2 separate regions of the Homo sapiens genome follow, and region 2 is linked to region 1. The links come from fine-mapping of genetic effects on gene expression. A gene starts in region 1. The other region holds a variant in brackets. All regions are shown on one strand. Distances are between the middles of the regions.

Region 1 (10,401 bases):
TATGATCCTGACCAAGAGCTCCAGCCTGCATTCCCCTCCATGCCATGGAGATGCCTGTGGCCCTAGTTCTGGCTCTGGGCCCTGTACGAGCCAGAATGAATCACGTCACCTCTCTGGCCTGGATTTACTTTACCCCCTCAATTTTCTCAATTCTGCTGTCTCCTGGGCTTTCCCACCACCCCACCCCCACTTTCTTTGATTGCCCCTTTTACTTCACATCATCCATTCCACAGACATTTACAGTTGGCCTCCTATGTGCCAGGCCTGGACCAGACTTCAGACATGCAGAGCAATGTATGAACTCATGAGGAAGGTAGGGAAACAGACACACAAATACCAGATTACAATGCAGATTATAATCCATCCATCAAAGATGAATAAACACAATAATTTACAAATATTTGCTGAGAGGCCAGGCATGGTGGCTCACATCTGTAATCTCAGCACTTTGGGAGGCTGAGGTGGGAGGATCACTTGAGCTCAGGAGTTCTAGATCACCCTGGGTAACATAGGGAGACCCCATCTCTAAAAAAAAAAAAAAAAAAAAAAAATCTTTTCAATTAGCTGGGTGTGGTGCCGCATACCTATAGTCCCAGCTACTGAAGAAGCTGAAGTGGAAGGATTGTTTGAGCCCAGGAGGTCAAGGCTGCAGTGAGCTGTGTTCATGCTACTGCACTCTACCCTGGGTGACAGAGCAAGACCCTGTCACAATAAACAAACAGACAAAACAAAACAAAACAAAACCACAAATATTTACTGAGTACCTATGGTGTGCCAAGCCTGTGCCTGATCACAGGGATACAGCAGTGAACACTACAAACAAGATCTCTATCCCTGTTCTTTTAGAGTTTACTTTTTTTTTTTAAGAGTAGGGGTCTCAGTGTGTCACCCAGGCTGGAGTGCAACAGCATGATCTCGGCTCTGTGCAGCCTTGACCTTTCCTGGGCTCAAGCAATCTTTCTTCCTCTGCCTTCTGAGTAGCTAGTACTGCAAGTGCATGCTGCCATGCCCAGCTAATTTTTTTAAAAAAAATTTGTAGAGACAGGGTCTTAACATGTTGTCCAGGTTGGCCTTGAACTCCTGAGCTCAAGAGATTCTCCCACCTCAACCTCCCAAAGTGCTGAGATTATAGGCATGAGCCACCAAACCCGCCCTGGAGTTTATATTCTAATGGACAGAGACAATACTTAAATATACAAAATGATTATGGATTATGATGAATACTCTAAAGAAAATACACACAATGATGTATTAAAGGGAGATGCAGTGGGACAGGCCATTTCAGACAGAGTGGTCCAGGATGGCCTCTTGGAGAAGGTGCCCCCTGGAGCTGGGACTTGAAGGATGAGCAAAATACTGGGAAATAGCACTTGGGAAAGGAGTAACAAGTGCACAGAATCAACACATTTGCAGTGAGCAAGGAGGCTAGGTGCTGGAAAGAAGGGAGGGAGGAGAGAGGTGGGAAGGACATGGATCATGCAGGGCTTGAAGAGCCGGATTTAATACTAAGTGCAATAGGAAACCACTGGAGGGTTTTAAGCCAGAGAATGACATAATCTGAATTAAGATTTTATAACATCACTCTGGCTGCTATGTGTAGGATGGACGGTTAGGCGTCTGTTGCAATAATCCAGACAAGAAATCAATGATAGCTTGATTTAAGGTGGTGGCAGCAGAGAAGAGAGTGAAAGATTGGAGACATATTTTCGAAGCGGAGCTGACAGGTCATGCAATCAGACTGGAAATGGGGTCCAGGATGAGGACAAAGGAGACAACAAGAACGATGCTTGGGTTTTCTGTTTGGGCAACTGGATGAATAGTGCAACTATTTCCTGAGATAGGGAAGACGGGAGGAACAGATTTGTGCGGGTGGCAATCTTGAGATGCCTATTAGACATCTGAGTTTATATTGCAAGTAGGCAGATGAAGAGTCTGCACTGGAGGTATAAATTTGGCTGGAATTTAAAGCTACGGGGCTGGATACAAAGCCTAAGGAAGCCTAACCACAGAGCCGATATTTAGAGGACTCTATGGGATCCTGGAGGAGGGAGCAGCTAACTGACCACAGAAGTCAAGGAAAACATCATAGAGGAGAGAATGGTGAAGCCAGGTCTTGAAAGACAAGTAAGAGTTTGCCAGAGGAAGTGAAAAAACACCATCTGGGAAGAGGGAACAACATGTAACATGTTCAAAGGCCCTCAGTCCAGCAATAGCGGGAACCCTGTCTGTTTCAACTGTGTCACCTTAGGGCCTAGCACACACGTTCAATAAATATTTGCTGAACGAGTGGTGTGTTTGACAACTTGCAGGCAGCTTGGGAAAGCTGGAGGAAAAAGTTAGTGGTGGGCTTAGGACAGGTGGTGAGAGATGAAGCTCTAGTGTGGAAGATGAGAATAGACCATAGCACCAAAGGCCCCTCCTGGGGGAGAGGGAAGAATCATTAAAACATCTTCTGCCTGAGGGAGGGGCATAGTCAAACATGCATTTTTTTTCTTTTTTTTTTTTGAGATAGAGTCTTGCTCTGTCACCCAGGCTGGAGTGCAATGGCACAATCTCAGCTCACTGCAACCTCTGGCTCCCAGGGTCAAGTGATTCTCCTGCCCCAGCCTCCCGAGTAGCTGGGATTACAGGTGCGTACCACCATGCCCAGCTAATTTTTGTATTTTTAGTAGAGACGGGGTTTCAACATGTTGGTCAGGCTGGTCTCGAACTCCTGACCTTGTGATCCGCCCGCCTCAGCCTCCCAAAGTGCTGGGATTACAGGCGTGAGCCACTGCATTTTAAGAAGAGTCTTCAGGCTATGATATAGAAAGGGAGTGAATATGAGATTGGGGACGAGATTGAAAGCAGGGAGGAGAGACTGAAGATGGGGAGATTAGCTCAGGGGCTGCTGAGGGATGAAAAGGCCTCAGGGAGATGCTTTCTGGGACCCAGCAGCAATGTTTCCTGCGTGGGCAAAGAAGCCTGTACTCCAGGGGATATCTGAAGTAGTGGCTGGGATTGGACAAGGAAGATGGCCTGGAGCCAAGAAGTTATCCAATTTCCTGGGGAGGGGAGCTGTTCATATTAATAATATCTGATATGAAGTTTGCCCATCAAACCCTGCAGACAATGGGGGCTTTGGTATTAATTAAATTTCAAGAAATAAAGAAATGGCTATTCCTTGCACACCCAGACCCAGTAATACAAGGACTTGGGAAAGTGAGACACGGAAGGGGGATAAAGAGGATCACTTAGGAGAGAAGGTGGGAAGCGAGAGTTCTGTTTTGGACTTGCTGACCAGGGAGCACCCTGGGACGTCCAGGGAGAGGTTCGGCCGTAGGTCGCAGGGCTGGGCTTAGAAGCTTCAATGTGGAGGCCATGGGAGTGGACAGGGTGGCCAGGGAGTCTGAAAGCGGCGGCAGGATAAAGCGAGATCCGGAAGCGGGCAAGGGAGCGCTTCCCCCTTCCCCAGCCTGGGTCTGTCCCCACAGCCGCTCACAGCCCGGCCCGCAGGGAAGCGACCGAGGGGAGGCCCGGCGGGGGACGCGCTAGGAGGAGGTCCCCGAGCAGCGGGTATCCGAGAGCAGGTCCTGCTTTCCAGAGCTCGCCGAGTAGGGCAGGGAAAGCGAAGCCGAAACCCAGGCTGGGGTATCAGCAGCAGCGGATAACCGAACGACTGCAGCCGCGACAGGAGAAGCCCGGGGCGGTGGCGGGCCGCAGACCCCCGCCTCCGGGCCGCAGACCCCCGCCTCCGAGCTGCCGCCTACATTCCCCTAGGTGAGCGCGGAAGAGGATGGCGGAGGATGGTCTCCTAGACCCCCAAGAATCCCGTCCGGCGTCTCCGCCTGCCTTCCCCATCCAGCCCCCCGACCCTTCAGCACCCTCCACGCCACCTCCGAATCAGACCCCCGCCCTCCGGGCTCCGCCCCGGGACCCCTCCCCTCCCCTGGCTCCGGAGGGAGCCCGGTACCGTCTCCGGGGGAGATGGTCTCGATCTCCACGCCCATAGCGGTCCCACAGGCCCCGCCTCTGGGGGGTCCCTGCTGCTGCCCGACCCCGGCTCGGCTCCGGCCCCAGCCCCGCCGTCGCTCCGGCTCGCCTCCTCGCCGCCACTGCAGAGCCGGAGGAGGTGCGGCTGGAGTCGGGACCTGCGCGGGGAGGGGCCACTGGCAAGGGGGCGGCGGGGCGGAGCCGCGCGGAAAGGTGGGGTCGGCCGGGGCGGGGCCCGGGGGAAGGGACCCCGCCCGGCTGTTAGCGAGCCTGGCCCCGCCTGACGACATTAACCCACTGACCAGGGAGCGTGGTAAGCACAACCACATCCTCCATCCATCCATTCATTCGCGCATCCGTCCAATAGACATTTATTTAGCATCTAATCTGTAGTAAGCTCTGGGAAGTCAACCCAGTCCTACAGACTTGTGGGGGGTGGGGGGCAGAAGGGGCAAAGGCCGGCGATTAAACCATCATTTTATTTTTATTTTTATTTTAGACAGAGGATCTTGCTCTGTCGCCCAGGCTGGAGTCCAGTGGCGCGATCATAGCTCACAGCAACCTCGAACTCTTAGGCTCAAGCGATCCTTCTTCCTCAGCCTCCACCCAAGTAGCTGGGACTAGAGGCGCGAGCAACCACGCCCAGCTAATCTTTTATTTTTTATTTTTATTTTTTGTAGAAACGGGGTCTCGCTGTGTTGCTATCTAATGAAACCATCACTTTAATTAGATGCGCTCAGTGCCGTGCAGTTCAGAGCGTTGCGGAAGCACAGAAGAGGTTCCTACCCTCGCTAGGCGTCCTGGATCTGTAGGAGCAGAGCTGGGGGAGGGAGGGAGGACACCAGTAATTGCTGACTCTCCCCCATACCCCTAAACCCCTGTTCTCCATCTCGTGTAGTTCTGCTCGACGCACATTTATTGGGTACTCAATTTTCAAGGCAAAGAAATGCGCCCTGGGGATACCAATAGAATTAAGACAGGTTGGCTGTCTTCCAGGTACTAAGTCTGAGAGGGACGGGGACACACAGTTACTGCATGGAGTGATTAGTGCTGTGGAATGAATGAATGAATATGTAAATGAATTCTACTTTGAGTTCCTCCTCCACCAAAAAATACATTCAGGAATCTAGAAAAATATTTTTTGGAGGAGGTAATATTTGTTTAAAGGGTAATTGGGACTTTTAAAATTTTTTCCCCCTCATTATTACCTGCATTGTTCCAAAAATTGATGTGAGGCCAAGTATATCAATTTTTGGAACAATGGCTCACACCTGTAATCTCAACACTGTAGGAGACCGAGGCAGGAGGATTGCTTGAGCCTAGAAGTTCAAGACCAGCCTGGGTAACATAGCGAGATCCCGTCTCTCTCTCTCTCCTTTTTTTTTTTTTTTTTTTTGAGACAGAATCTTCACTCTGTCGCCAGGATGGAGTGCAGTGGCACAATCTCGGCTCACTGCAACCTCCGCCTCCCAGGTTCAAGCGATTCTCGTGCCTCAGTCTCCCAAGTAGCTGGGATTACAGGCGTGAGACACCAGCGTTCGGCTAATTTTTAAATTTTTAGTAGAGACAGGGTTTCACCATGTTGGCCAGGCTGGTCTCGAACTCCCGACCTCAGGTTATCCGCCCGCCTCAGCCTCCCAAAGTGCTGGGATTACAGGCATGCCATCTTTATTTTTAAAAAAAGAAAAGAAAAGAAAAAGAAAAACATAAAAACTGATGTGAAGATATGATTCTCCTGAGTGGCACTGGAAGATAGGCATGGGGAGAAAAGCCTGGCAAACTGGTCCAGAATGAGCCCCAAGGGTGTTCTTCCTCCATTTCCTCATCCCCACTCTCCCGGATGCTTAGGTCCCAGATGAGGTTGTCTGCATCCCTGAAGGTGTTCTGGCTGTGTTGTTAAAGAAAGATGATTGTCGACTGTACTGTGAGGGTCAGGACCTGGAATTCCTCATAGGTCTGAAGAAGCCTAAGGGACGCACTAAATCCATAGGCTGCGGCCAGAGCAGGCACGCTTAGGGTCGGGGTAGAACAGGGATTTGTAGCTGGGACAGGCCCATGCAGCGGCTTCAGCTCAATGCACAGTATTTTGTGTACAGATAAGAACATTTTCCTGAGAGATTTTATCAGATTTTAAAGAAGGTTAAAAAGCCGTGGTGATCCTAGGGCTCCTGGACTCCTTAGACAAGAGAACCGACGAGAAGTGGGGAAAGAGCTCAAGTGCTTAAGGGAGGGAAAATGTGGCGGGCTTGCGGTCGGTGGTTTTACGGGGACTACCACTCCCAGCGATCCGTGCGGCAGAGCCAGAGCTTATTGGCCAGTGGGACGAACCCTCTGCTAATGTGCATATTCAAAAGCCAATAGACGGGGCCATCTCGGAGCGTGCCTATCCTATCAGAGGACCACCCACCTATCAGAGGACCGATATCACCGCCCACCTATCAGAGGACTGAGGGCCGGTGCTTCCGGTGGCTGCCCAGAACTTCTTATGTGCGGCGGCGTGATGTTGGGCGGCCACAGAGAGATTGGTGTTTTTGTGAGGCAGTGAGACCTAAGGTATTTCATCTCCACTGCTGCCGGGCCTGGCGGGTGTGGGGAGGCTGTAGGGGGTCAGGAGGGAAGTGGATCGGCTCTTGGTGGGTAGGGGGCGGGAAGGAGGAGATTCAGGCGTGCAGAGAGGATGAGGAGAATGGGGCGGGCCGCGTGTGAGGGGTCGCGGGATGAGGATCGAGCTAGGGGTGGGTGTAAATGAGGGATTATGACCGTGACTCGTGAATAACACTCCTGGGAATATGTCCCAAGGAAGTCATCCAAAGTCAGGAAATGCTTTAAGCCTTAAGACCTCGGTCCGAGCTTTATTTATAGCGGGTAGCGGGATAAAGTTGGGTACAGCTAGGAGCAGTTCAGTACATTATGTCACTTCACTGAGTGTATGTGAAGTGGCCTCTAAAACTAATTTATTAAACTTTTAAATAACATAGGGAAATGCTAATATATAATGTTAGATGAAAACCGTGATACAAAGTTGCACAGTATAACTGAAAAAGTTTGACAGCCAAACTATGCATAGAAGAGTCTAGAGGGATTAGTCATAATTTTCTTTGGATGAATGTTTTTTCGTTAACTCTTCTTAATTTTTTTCTTGTGTATGATTTTTGTTTCCAAATAAGTGTAAAGAACTTGAAATCATTTTATAGTGGAAATACAATAAACTTGGAAAACAAGTTGGGGGAGGGATGTACTTTTGTTTAAACCTGCTGGAAATGCCAGTTCACCTGAATCCCTTGATTCTCGTCATGAGTTGTCTTTAAAGAAGATGAAAAACAGAATTAAATGGTTATATACTGAGCACCGGCTCTTAGTTTTCTGACCACCTCTCCGGAGACCTGAACTAATACAGTGGTCTTTTCCCTCCTAAAACACCCAGGGTTCTTGATTTCATGTTCTCCAAAAAACTTATACTCTGGAGATTGTGAAACAATAGGTATACAATTAGTTTCAGGCAAAATCAGTAGCGTTGGGGAATGCCTGAAGAGCATTTAAACCTTGGTCCTCCTGGCCCTCTGATCTTATACAGTGAGGTTCTCCACTACCTTGACTTTAATGATTAACCCTATGTCAGTGATTTCCAAATCCTTACCTCTGACTGCCTAAGGTACATTGGTACCATGTAGACATCTTACATGAAGCACATGTTAATTTCAATTTGTCACATACTACACACGTTCCTCCCCTACTGCCCCCACCCCCACCTCCCCAACAGGGTCTCACTCTGTCACCCAGGCTGGAATGCAGTGGTGTGATCATAGCTTACTGTAACCTTGAACTCCTGAGCTCAAATCCTCTCAGCCTCCATAGTAACTAGGACTGCAGGTGTGGGACGCTGCACCCAGCTAATTTTTATTTTTATTTTTATTATTTTTTATTTTCCTTTTTTATGGAACGCTTCACAAATTTGCAAGTCATCCCTGTGCAGGGGCCATGCTACGCTCTGTATCATTTCAGTCTTAGTATATGTGCTGCCAAAGTGAGCACCCACCTCATTTTTAAAAATTTTTCTGTAGAATTGGGGTCTCCCTGTGTTGCCTAGGCTGGTCTTGAAATACTGGCATCAAGTGATCCTCCCACCTCAGCCTCCCAAAGTGCTGGGATTACAGGTGTTAGCCACTGTGCCTGCCCTTCCTTTCCTTTCTTCCTTCCCTCCCCCTCCCCCTTCCTTCCTTCCTTCCTTCCTTCCTCTCTCTCTCTCTTTTTTTTTTTTTTTTTTTTGAGATGGAGTCTTGCTCTGTCACCCAGGCTGGAGTGCAGTGGCGCAAACTCGGCTCACTGCAACCTCCGCCAGCCGGGTTCAAGCGATTCTCCTGCTGCAGCCTCCCAAGTAGCTGGAACTACAGGCACACACCACCACGCCCAGCTAATATTGTATTTTTAGTAGAGACAGGGTTTCACCATGTTGGCCAGGGTGGTGTCGAACTCCTGACCTCAGATGATCCACCTGCCTCAGCCTCCCAAAGTGCTGGGATTACAGGCATGAGGCACCACACCCAGCCTGCCCTGCCTTCCTTGCCTTTGAAACATGCTCTGGTTAATGGTTCAGCAGTTTCTCAAGCTAAAAATCTGGGTGTTATCCTTAATTCTTTTTTCCTCCTCACTACTTATATCCTATCGATATCACTGTCTATTCCATCTGCCTTAAAAGCATCTCTTGAATATGGCCTTCTTTCTCTACTGAAATAGTTGCAAACTTGCTTCATTTTCACTTTGTGGCATTCAAATTACTTGTCAACTTTCTTCCTTCTCAGGTCCATTCTGCATATTGTTACTTGAATATATGCTGGTTCCCCCAAGATTCCAAATTCCTCAGCATGCCCTTTATGATCAGAGAATAAACTTAGAAAGATATATCAATATCTGATAATATAAGGTTTTAATTGCCTTGTTAAGACATTTTGAGGCTTTTTATATACTGTAGATGTGGGGATTCATCAAGGGTGTTTATGCAGAAGAGCAAAATGATCACCGCTGTGCTTTTTTTTTTTTTTTTTTTTTTTTAAAGATAATTCTGCCCAACAACACATAGTATGCAGGCTCATTTGGAAAGTAGAGACTGGTATCAAGGGGACCTCTCCTTGTTTTACCCTAATAAAAAGGGAGAAGTCAGAACCTGGGCTAACACAGGAGTAGAAAGGAATGGAGCAGATTTTTGTAATTATCACTGCGTTTTTGAGAAAAATGTGCCACATTTCTTCTTGTTACCGAAGATGACAATATTAAAATTCATTCTTCTAAAAACCTCAGTAAACTGGCCCATGCAGTGGCTCACGCCTGTAATCCTAGCACTTTGGGAGGCCAAGGCAGGAGGATCACTTGAGGTCAGGAGTTCAAGACCAGCCTGGCCAACATGGTGAAACCCAGTCTCTACTAAAAATATAAAAATTAGCTGGGCATGGTGGTGGGCCCCTATCCCAGTTCCTTGGGAGGCTGAGGCACAAGAATCACTTGAACCCAGGAAGCAGAGGTTGCAGTGAGCCCAGATCATGCCACTGCACTCCAGCCTGGGTAACGGAGCAAGACTGTGCCCCCACGCCCCCCCCAAAAAAAAACCTCAGTAAACTTATGTTTGTTTTTCTCTTATTCCCAAATCCTTGTCTTGTGCTACCCTGGCCACACACACCCTCATTGACATTAGACAGAATTTGGTATCCTAAAATATATAAATCGACTTGGATGTAATTGGCCCATTAGGAATTTTCTCTGCCCATGAAAGTGTATCATGGCATTATTTATCAATAAAATTCTTTTTAAAGTACATAAGTAGATATTAGGGAGAAAACATTATTATCTTTCATAAGACCAGTGGGACAGAGATCACAGTTTTCTTCATTAGTAATGACTGGACTTTTTTCTCCGTTTAGCAAGCCGCTGCAGAACCACTGAATCTGACATCATATATAAAAGCATAATAGACCCTTTTTTTTTTTAAGTGAAAGATCCTAAGAGCAAGGACAAAGCTAGCAAGGAGATATGCGAAATAATTTACAGATAAGCAAATCACCAGGTTGGTAGAGAATACATTTCATTGGATTTAGAGTCTGAAGACAACTTCTCAAGTTCTGCCTTTGACACTTACTCAGTAAAACAAGGCTGAAAAATGTCATTTAGATTCAGTGACAGGGAAGCACTGGTGGCCTGGTGAGAGATGTTTTGGAGAAGAAATTGGAATGGAATTCATTTTAAGTATATTAAGAAGAGAGTGAGTGGTGAAAAATATGAGTACTGCCAGTTTACACAACTATTTGATAACTAATAAGGTTAAACATCACTTTATATATGTTTGTAGATTGTTGGGGGGTTTTTTGTTTTGTTTTGTTTTGTTTTAAGTAGAGACAGTATCTTGCTGTGTTGTCCAGGCTGATCTCTGGTCTCGAACTC
Region 2 (10,401 bases), 300 kb before region 1:
TACGATTACAGTAGTACTTTGCTTGTCTGCAAGGAATACATTCCAAAACCCCTAGTGGTTGCTTGAAACCATGGATGGTACAGAAACCTATATACACTATGTTTTTTCCTATATATACATACCTATGATAAAGTTTAATTTATAAATTAGGCACAGTAAGAGATTAATAATAATAAAATTGAACAATTATAACAATATACTGTTAACAATTTCACAGATATAAGACTTGTTCTTACTGTAGATCTTAGCAACCTCAGCATACAATTTTTTCCCTTCTATATTAAGTTGAGAACTTTCACCTTTTCACTTGAAGGAAGTGGCTTCTCCTTGGCATATCCGAATTGCCAGCCTCACTACTCTTGCACTTTGGGGTCATTATTAAGTAAAATAAGGGTTACTTGAACACAAGCACTGTGATACTGTGACAGTCGGTCTGATAACTGAGACAGCTACTAAGTGACTAATGGGCAGGCAGCATAGACACAGTGGATACACCCTGGACAAAGGGATGGTTTTCATCCTGGTTGGGACAGATGCGGGCAATGCAGGATTTTACCATGCTACTCAGGATGGTGCACAATTAAAAATTTATGAATTGTTTATTTCTGGAATTATCCATTTTGTATTTTGAGACCATGGTTGACCACAGGTAACTGAAACTTCAGAAAGTGAAACTGCAGATAAGGGGGTCTACTGTATCCACATTATTTGGTTAGGAAATTGAAGCTATGTCATGTGCAAGTCCACAAAGCTAGGAAGTACTTGCACTGGGATTCAAACTCAAGTTGCTGGGTTTGTCTTCTGTGCAGTTGAAAGAATGCTAACCTGTGCTTATTAAAGAATATTTTAGTGCCTACCATGTGAGTGACTGCTGGGCACTAGGTATATGAAGTTAAAGAGCCATTCAGGAGCTCACAGTCTAATAGAAGCGGGGCAGGCGTGAAAACAAAAGTAACAATACTAGCTGGTATGTAGTTTAATGAGATAATACAAGACAAAATGGGACTGTGGCAAAGGAAGCTATTATTAGTAGAAGTGTCACTCAGAAGGCAGGTAGTTCCACAGGTGCAAAGAGAGGAGGCATGGGAATAAGATCAAGTGGAGGTGGAGGTGGGGAGGTTGAAATACCTGGTAGGGTAGGCGGAAGATAGAGCCTAAAACACCTTGTATGTCACGTGAATAGATTTTTTAAAAACAGCTTTATTGAGATACATATTGTAAAATTCACCCTTTTAAAGTTTACAGTTCAGTGTTTTTTAGTATATTCACAGACTTGTGCAACCAGTATCACTATCTAATTTTAGAACATTTTCGTCGTTCTTAAAAGAACCTCCTATACCCAATGGCAGTCACTTTCCATCTCCCTCAACACCGCTAGCTCTAGGTAGCCACTAGTCTACTTTCTGTGTCTATGAAATTGCCTATCCTAGACATTTCATATAAATGGAATTATACAATATATGGTCTTTTGTGACTCACTTCTTTTACTTACCATAGTGTTTTCAAGATTCATCAATGTTATAGCATAGATCAGTACTTCATTCCTTTTTATGGCCAAATAATATTTTATGGATTATATGGATATACCACATTTTGTTTATTGTTTATTCATTCATCCATCTGTAGTTGATGGACATTTGCTTCCACTCGGTTGCTTCTACTTTTTGGCTATTGTGAATAATGCTGCTGTGAGCATTTGTGTACAGGTTTTGGGACATGTTTTTATTTATCTTGGGTTCATACTGAGGGGTGGAATTGCTGACTTAACATGGTAACCTATGTTTAACATTTTGAGGAAATTCTGAATTGTTTTCCAAAGCAGTTGATCTATTTTATATTCCCACCAGCAATGTATGTGGGTTCCAGTTTAGGAGGTTAATTTTATACTATTGGTGAGCCATTACTCAGAATCACAGTGGAAAAATTGTTGAAAATTATTGGCTTAGATTAATGCTTCCTCAGTATGGTCCAAGACACTCACTAGATCAGAAGCTTTTCCTAATGGATCATGAACCAGAAATACAAGCCGTCTCCTCAGTTCTCAGGGGCTATTGTTATTCCATTCCCATAACCTCTGATATTTATGTATTAGAATAGGCTACCTACCAATAATCTGAGTTACTAAGGATTACTGAAATTTAGTATTCACAACTAAAATTAGCTGGTTTCTAGAACTTACCGAGGGCTCTAGTTTAGTTTTCTTCTAAGAAATCTGTCAGCTATACCATGCTTTGGCAGCACTAGAAAATTAGTACTATGCATGCCCACACTCAGAAGATATTTTCACTACATCAGTGGTGTTGTCTCAAATTGGCTGTGGTTCCAGTTGCTGTTATTTTTGGATTAATACAATTGTAGAATTAATGTTACATTTAAATTTTTGTGGACCGTTTTGCTCTTGTGTACTTGTTACATTGCTACAATTCTTCCTTAGGGAGTTATTTTTGCACTAGAAAATGGGAGGAGGTAGGTAGGCTGGATCTCTTGTCTTACTTAGGTGGGTGATGGTTAGAATAGTTTGGGAATGAGGCTGCTGCTCGGCCTATGGAGTAGCCATTCTTTTATTCCTTTAAAAAAATAGTTTGGGAATGAGTGGATTACATAATTGGAAGGGTCTTTCCCACTTCATTATCTTTTTTTAAGAATGAGGGTTTGTGTATGTTATCATTAAACATTTAAGCTATGGAACACATGAACTGTCTGAAAGTCTACAGTTGGCTTTGGATGTGTGAAACCTTCAGAATTATGTGCCATATTTTGTACATTTGTGTTTTTCCAGGGAGAACAACCATAGGTTTTATCAGATTAAAATAAAAAAGTCTATGACCACTCAAATTAAATAATTCAGGTTGATGAAAAGAATTTGTAAATTTGTGGTTTGAAATATTTGGGGGAAGTGAGACCTTGCTTTGGTTAGGTGGTGTTGTGAGTGAAGGATGTTTTCTGGGTATGCTATTGGTTTTAGTGTAACAAATTCCATGTTACAATATCTCTATTTTATTTTTTCCTGGTAATTTTTTTCCCTGTTAGATTTTGGAGTTTGCTTTAAAAAAATTCTCATTGCATATTGATGATGATGATAATGATGATGATGATGATGATTATTGTTGTTGTAGAGACAGAATCTCACTATGTTGCTCAGACTGGTCTCAAACTCCTGAGCTCAAGCTGTCATCCTGCCTTGGCCTCCAGCAGTGCTGGGATTACAGGGGTGAGCCACTGCAACTGGCCCACATTTATTATTATTTTATGTTTGCTTTCTTGGATGATTCTTTTGATATTATATTCAAAAGTGCTATTTTTTTTGCAGCGATAGTATACTTTATTTGTAGTAATTGAAGTATATTGGTAATTTTTTAAAAAACTTCAAATTGGCTTGATAGCATAGGAAAATGGACGAATGCTTTTCTGCCCGTTAGCTGCTACTTTGAATTTCTTTACTCTTTTATTCTGTTAGCCTTTTGGTTGAGATGTGAAACTACCAATCACAGATAAAAGTTATTCCCATGCAGGCCCTTATGGGGTATGGCATCAGCTTAGATGCCAGGCTCTGTCTGCCCCTGCAATAGGGTGTGTTTGTTGTAGTGTACTTTTCCTCTGTAGTTTTTAGCACTGGATGTAGCATGACTGGATTTGAGATGAAATGGTAATTTCAGTTAAATGCTTTTAGTAAAAGAGACTTGTTATTTATTATTGTTTATAATAGACTGAAAAATAGACAAGGGCTGCCGGGTGCTGTGGCTCATGCCTGTAATCCTAGCACTTTGGGAAGCTGAGGCGGGTGGATCACTTGAGGTCAGGAGTTCGAGACCAGCCTGGCCAACATGGTGAAACTTTGTCTCTACTAAAATGTCTCTACAAAAAGTACAAAAAATTAGTTGGGCATGGTGGCAGGCACCTGTAATCCCAGCTACTTGGGAGGCTGAGGCAGGAGAATCGCTTGAACCCAGAAGGTGGAGGTTGCAGTGAGCTGATATCGCGCCACTGCACTCCAGCTTGGGCAAAAAAAAAAAAAAAAAAAAAAATCATAGTATTTGAAAAACTAGTTGTAAGTTTACCATAGCCTTCTCTTTACTGAAGAGTAAGATCTTTACTGAGATCTTAGTATTTGTTTTTCACTTTTAATTTTTATTTATTTTTATAGATATAGGGTCTCACTGTTGTCCAGCTGGAGTTCAGTCTCATGTTCATAGCTCACTGTAATCTCGAACTCTTGGGTTCAAGTGATCCTCCCACCTCAGTTTCCTGAGTAGCTAGGACTATAGATGCACACCACCCATCACACCCAGCTAATTTTAAAATTATTGGTAGAGATGGGGTCTCACTATGTTCCTAGGCTGGTCTTGAACTCCCAGCCTCGAATGATTCTCCCGCGTTGGCCTCCCAAAAGCGCTAGGATTACAAACATTAGCCACCGTGTTTAGCCTTATCTGTTTTTAATTGTTTAACATTTTGGTATATGTGGTTCATGTAAGATTAAAAAAAAAA[GA/A]AAACCCAAATTTACATTCATATTCTACAATTTTTTTTTTGAGATGACATTTCGCTCTTATTGCTCAGGGTGGAGTGCAATGGTGCGATCTCAGCTCACCGCAACCTACGCCTTCTGGGTTCAAGCGATTTTCCTGCCTCAGCCTACCGAGTAGCTGGGATTACAGGCATGTGCCACCACGCATGGCTAATTTTGTATTTTTAGCAGGGACGGGGTTTCTCCATGTTGGTCAGGCTGGTCTCGAACTCCCGACCTCAGGTGATCCACCTGCTTCAGCCTCCCAAAGGGCTGGGATTACGGGCGTGAGCCCCAGTGCCTGGCCTACAATTTGTATTTTTTTTTTAATTACATTATATAATAAACATATCCTATCTCCTATAGCCTTGAAATTGTCATTTGTAATAGGTAAATAATATTCTGAGTGAATGTAACTTTAATTTTTTGCTTCTTTCTCTATTTTTGGATAAATTAGCTTATTTGTATTTTTTCTAATATTGGTAAAACTGTACTATGCATCCTTGCAATCTATTTTTGTTCTTTAGATATTTTCTTAAGATAAATTTCTGCTGGTTGCGGTGGCTCACGCCTGTAATCCTAGCACTTTGGGAGGCTGAGGTCGGCAGATCACAAGGTCAGGAGTTCAAGACCAGCCTGGCCAATATGGTGAAACCCTGTCTCTACTAGTACAAAAAAAATTAGCTGGGCGTGGTGGCGGGTGCCTGTAGTAGCAGCTACTCGGGAGGCTGAGGTAGGAGAATCACTTGAAACCGGGAGGTGGAGGTCGCAGTGAGCCGAGATCATGCCACTGCACTCCAGCCTAGGTGACAGAGCGAGACTCCATCTCAAAAAAAAAAAAAAAAAAAAAAGATAAATTTCCATGTGGATCAAGTGGGTATTTTGTTTTTAATGAATGTGGTCAAAATTAGAGGCACATATTTACCTATACTCTTCTACTTCTGAGGTATTTGCTTTTTATAAAATTGATAGGCTTATTTTTTAAACAGTTTTAAATTTACAGAAAAATGGAGCGAGTAGAACAGAGTTCCCATATATCCCTTCATGTACCCCACACATAGTTTCCACTATTATTAATATCTTATATCAGTATGGTACATATGTTAGGAATAATGAACAATACTGATTGTATTATGATTAACTGAAGTCTATGCATTATTTCAGTTTCCTTAGTTTTTATTTAATATCCTTGTTCTGTTCCAGGTCACCACATTACATTTAGCTGTCATGTCTCCTTAGGCTCCTCTTAGTTGTGACAGTTCCTTAGACTTTCCTTGTTTTTGATGACTTTGACAGTTTTGAGAGGTTACTGGACAGATATTGTAGGAGATATATAAATATATTGTAAGTATATTGGAATTTGATGATTTGTCATGCTTGGACTAAGTTAGTGAATTTTTAGGAGGAAGATGACAAAGGCAAAATGATACTTTCATCTTATCAAGAGCACATACTGTCTGCATGCTTTATGACTGTTGATGTTGACCTTGACCAGCTGGCTAAAGTAGTGTTTGTCAAGTTTTTCCTCTCTACAGTTAATCCCCCACCCTCCTTTCTGTGCTATACTCTACGTAGCCTTCTGCCTTTCCATCTTTGTGGGCTGGGATACAGTCTTAGAGGTCATAGAGATAAGAAGGGTAGACACTGCTAGACATCGCAAGTGGTGGTGGTAGAAGGGTAGCGCAAACAATTTGGACTCATATCCATTTCTTCACTCCAAAATAAAATCCACGTAGATCAAATATATACATAAAACCCTTAAATCATAGAGGTACTAGAATAAAATATAGGACAATTTTCTGGTATAAGACCTGGTATGAGACAGGCCTTTCTTTGTATGACAAGACACTCACTAGTCATAAAAGAAAGACCAACAAATTTAAATTGGTATAATGAAAGATGCCCTAAAATTAAAAGACAAACAAGCTAGATTAAAAGCATTTATAGCATATGTTACAGGTAAAAGCTTACTATTAATATAATATCTATTATTGTAATGCATAGAAAAAGATCCGTGGATACAGGTCATGTTGTTAACAGCACTGGGTATTTTCAGAGACTGATGGGGAAGGATGGTCAAAAGAATTGGCTTTATTTGTATGTTTTAAGTTTTTACAATGAGAGTATTAATGTATTATGTGTCTATTAAAAAATAAATTTTGATCTACCCATCCTGTTGAATATTATGTAGAATCGAATGTGGTATTTCTGATGGGTATTATCTTAGAAGAAGGTTTAGACAATGTAAAATACATATGGGTATATATACGTTTATATAATATGTAAAAATAGGCTGTGAGAATGTACTTCAGTGGCTGATATGGTTATCTTGGAGATGGTACTGTGAGTGAGGTAATAAAGAATGACTGTCATGTTTTGCTCTTCATAATTGTACATTATTTGAAGCCTTTGCTTTTAAATTATTTGTACAGTAAAAATAAAAACATAGGGGAAAAAAGGCTGAAATGGGGGAAATCTGAGCTCTCACATATAAAGATCCTATAGAACCACACTATCCCATACAGTAGCCTTTAATATGTGGTTAATCAGCACTTGAAATGTGGCTAGTTCTATATTGAGAAGTACTCTAAGTGTATAATAAGTGTAAAAGCTGGAGTTTGAAGACAGTACAAAAATGTAAAATGTCATAAGAATTTTTATACTGATCATATGTTGAGGTGATAATATTTAGATATGAACTAATTAAAATATATTAATACAGATTTTACCCGTTTATTTTTACTTTTTATTTATTTTTTTGAAATGTAGTCTCACTCTATTATCCAGGCTGGAATGCACTGGCGCAATCTGGGCTCACTGCAACCTCTGCCTCTCAGATTCAAGCGATTGTCCTGCCTTAGCTTCCTGCGTAGCTGAGATTACAGGTGCCCGCCACCACGCCCAGCTAATTTTTATATTTTTAGTAGAGATGGAGTTTTACCATGTTGGACAGGCTGGTCTTGAACTCCTGACCTCAGGTGATCCACCTGCCTCAGCTTCCCAAAGTGCTGGGATTACAGGCGTGAGCCACTGCACCTGGCCTAATTTTACTTTTTAAAATGTGGCTACTAGAACATTTAAAATTACATTATGTAGTTTGTGTTGCATTTCCATTGAACAGCATGCTATAGAAAATGGGCAAAATAAATGAATAGGCAATTCATAGGAGAAATATACATGATAGATATATGAAAAATGCTGAGTTCCCTAATGATCAGAGAAATGAAAATTTAGAAAAAATTTGCCTCTCAGGTTGGCAATACATAAAATAATTGTTCATACCAAATATTGGCAAGATTATACAGAAACAAGTATGTTTACACACCAATGGGAATATAAAATGGTACTATTAATAAATTTTGGAAAGCAACTTGATACCCATTAATTCTACTTCTAGAAGTATTGTCCTACCTAAATACTCAGTATATATATGAGGATGAGGATGTTCAAAGTAGTATGGTTTGTTAGGCAAAAAACTGGAAACCGTCTTAATGTCCACCAGTGGAAGATAGCTTAATTTCTGGTATATCCATATAATAAAATGCTGTACACCTATTTAAAAGGATATGATTGATGTATTATATATTGCTATGGAAGGATATCTGTAATATGTGTAATGAAAATAATAGAATATTAATTGGCTAGCATAATTTTATTTGGGTTTGAAAAATAACATGTTTGTTTATATATGCATAAAATAAATCTGGAAAAACAAATACCAAACTGTTAACTGTGGTAATCAGGACTGGGTCTTCAGGTTCACCCCTCCTCCCCTGTCTGTGGAGTCCGCTTAGTAAGTTTTTCATGTTTGAGATTTTTGTGGAGCATGTGCTTATAAATTACATTTATTTGGAGAGGAAAGCTTAGTTAAGGGAAATAATGTTTGTGGAAAATTGCTTAGAGGAAATGGAGTATATTACTGGTATAGGTACTCTAAAATGTCTTTTGAATTAAGTCAGAGTTAGAGGGTTGTGTCTCTAAACCGCATCTTATTGGTATTATGCTATCAGCCTGTATTGAGAGACTTTATAGGTAAAGTCCAATTTAGGCTGTTTGGTATTATCTATTAAAATTAGAATGTTCATGCTCTCTAACCTGCTACTTCCACTTCTAGAATTTATCTTTGGAAGCACATATCTGTCCACAGACCTATATTTACACACATGTATGAAGAATGTTTATTGTAGCATTAATTGTAACATTTGTTAAAATGAACATGAAGGGAAACATTCTAGGCAGTGGTTACAGTACAAGCAAAAGCAGAGTAACTAGTGTGGTCTGGAAAAATAGAAGATTACTTATTCACTGTGAAAAATTGGTAACATGAAAAAAGCAGAACAATGAAGTATGACTTCATTTGTGTAAAAGTGGTATTTGCTAGTGTATAAATAGGAAATATCTGGAACAATCTATTCAAAACTGCTAATGATTGTTTTCTTGGTAATGGACTTTCACTTTCTATTATATATATATTTTTTAATGTTTAATTTTTCAGGTTGTTTTAAGGATCTTATGCTAATTGACATTTGTATCAGCTAGGCATTAACATTGTACTTATTTTTGTATCTATTGTTATGGTTCCTTGCATTGTTGTTAGCCTTTCACTTTTTTTTTTTTTTTTGAGATGGGGTCTCACTCTGTTACTCAGGCTGGAGTACAGTGGCACGATCTTGACTCACTGCAACCCCCATCTTACAGACTCAAGCAGTCCTCCCTCCTCAGCCTCCTGAGTACTTGGGACCACAGGCACATGCCACCTCGCCTGGCTGATTTTTTTTATTTTTGGTAGAGAGGGGTTTCACTGTGTTGCCCAGGCTGGTCTTGAACTCCTGAGCTCAAGGTGATCCACTTGCCTCGGCCTCCCAAGTGCTAGGATTACAGGCATGAGCCACTGTGCCAGGCCAGCCCTTCACTATTTCATGTGAGTAAGTAATCTTCTATTTTTCCAGACCACACTAGTTACTCTGCTTTTGCAGAGTAACCTCTGCCTAGAATGTTTTCCTTCACATTCATTCATTTTAACAAATGTTTTGATGTGTAGGGCCTAAGCTGATTTGAATGCAAGCTGAAATGCACATATCTGGTTGAGTCATGGGAACTGATTTGCATGTGTCTTTCTCTTTTATGGCTTGAAGAGGAGAGAAATTTGTGCTTAGACACTTGAGGGCCTACGAGATCAAGGAGTCTGTCCTTAGCTCTGCCCTTTGGACTGTTGTCTGAGCCTAAAGAAGAGAGACAAAGAAAGCTTGCATTGGGAGGCTGAGGTGGGAGGATCACTTGAGCTTAGGAGTTTGAGACCAGCCTGGGCAACATAGGGAGACTGCACCTCTATAAGAAATTTTAAAAATTAGCCGGGCTTGGCAGCGTGCTCTTGTGGTCCCAGCCGCTTGAAAAGCTGAGGTGGGAGAATCACGTGAGCCTGGGAGGTCGAGGCTGCAGTGCACCGTGATTATGCCACTGCACTCCAGCCTTGGCAACATTGACTGTCTCAAAAAGATTATATATCTCTAAAAGAAAAAAAAATGGTAGAAGAAAATCTGTACCTTCTCAATCGCTCTTTCTTCTGCTTCTAAACTTATGTATGCCTTTGTTCATTCTTACTCCCCTTCCTGAACTTCATTCTTAGAGACAGAAATATCTGTCCCAGGTTCTAACTTCGTGTTCTAGAGCTGTCTACTACTTCTTTTTCTGGCCCTAACTTCCATTAGGTAACTTCTCTCCCATCTCCTTTTTGTAAATTAAATCTTTATTTCTTTTTTTTGTCTAAAAATAGTTTTGTTCTGTCACCTAAAAACTAAAGCCTTATAATAACTCTGCCTCCCTTTCTTAAATCTTACCTTTTTTCCTATGTATTTTTTGAGAGGAAATCTTGCTCTGTCGCCCAGGCTGGAGGGCAG

Evidence for each region. PIP is the estimated chance that this variant, and not a neighbour inherited with it, causes the effect.
Region 2: its variant is fine-mapped to the expression of FKBP1B in whole blood (INTERVAL, PIP 0.95).

Annotation. Positions count from the first base shown.
Region 1 is chr2:24,043,438-24,053,838 of GRCh38, reverse strand. It overlaps FKBP1B (FKBP prolyl isomerase 1B), which reads right to left and starts at 4,098. Exons shown (of 4, transcript NM_004116.5): 1 at 3,953-4,098. The coding sequence starts at 3,989. It overlaps WDCP (WD repeat and coiled coil containing), which reads left to right and starts at 6,448. Exons shown (of 4, transcript NM_025203.3): 1 at 6,448-6,525. It also overlaps the pseudogene RNU6-370P. RefSeq lists a silencer at 3,937-4,236.
Region 2 is chr2:24,341,815-24,352,215 of GRCh38, reverse strand. All of the region lies in intron 1 of ITSN2 (intersectin 2), which reads left to right. Among named protein-coding and RNA genes, the nearest start is that of ITSN2, 14 kb to the left of the region's middle. The variant GA/A (reference allele first, on the strand shown) is at 4,489.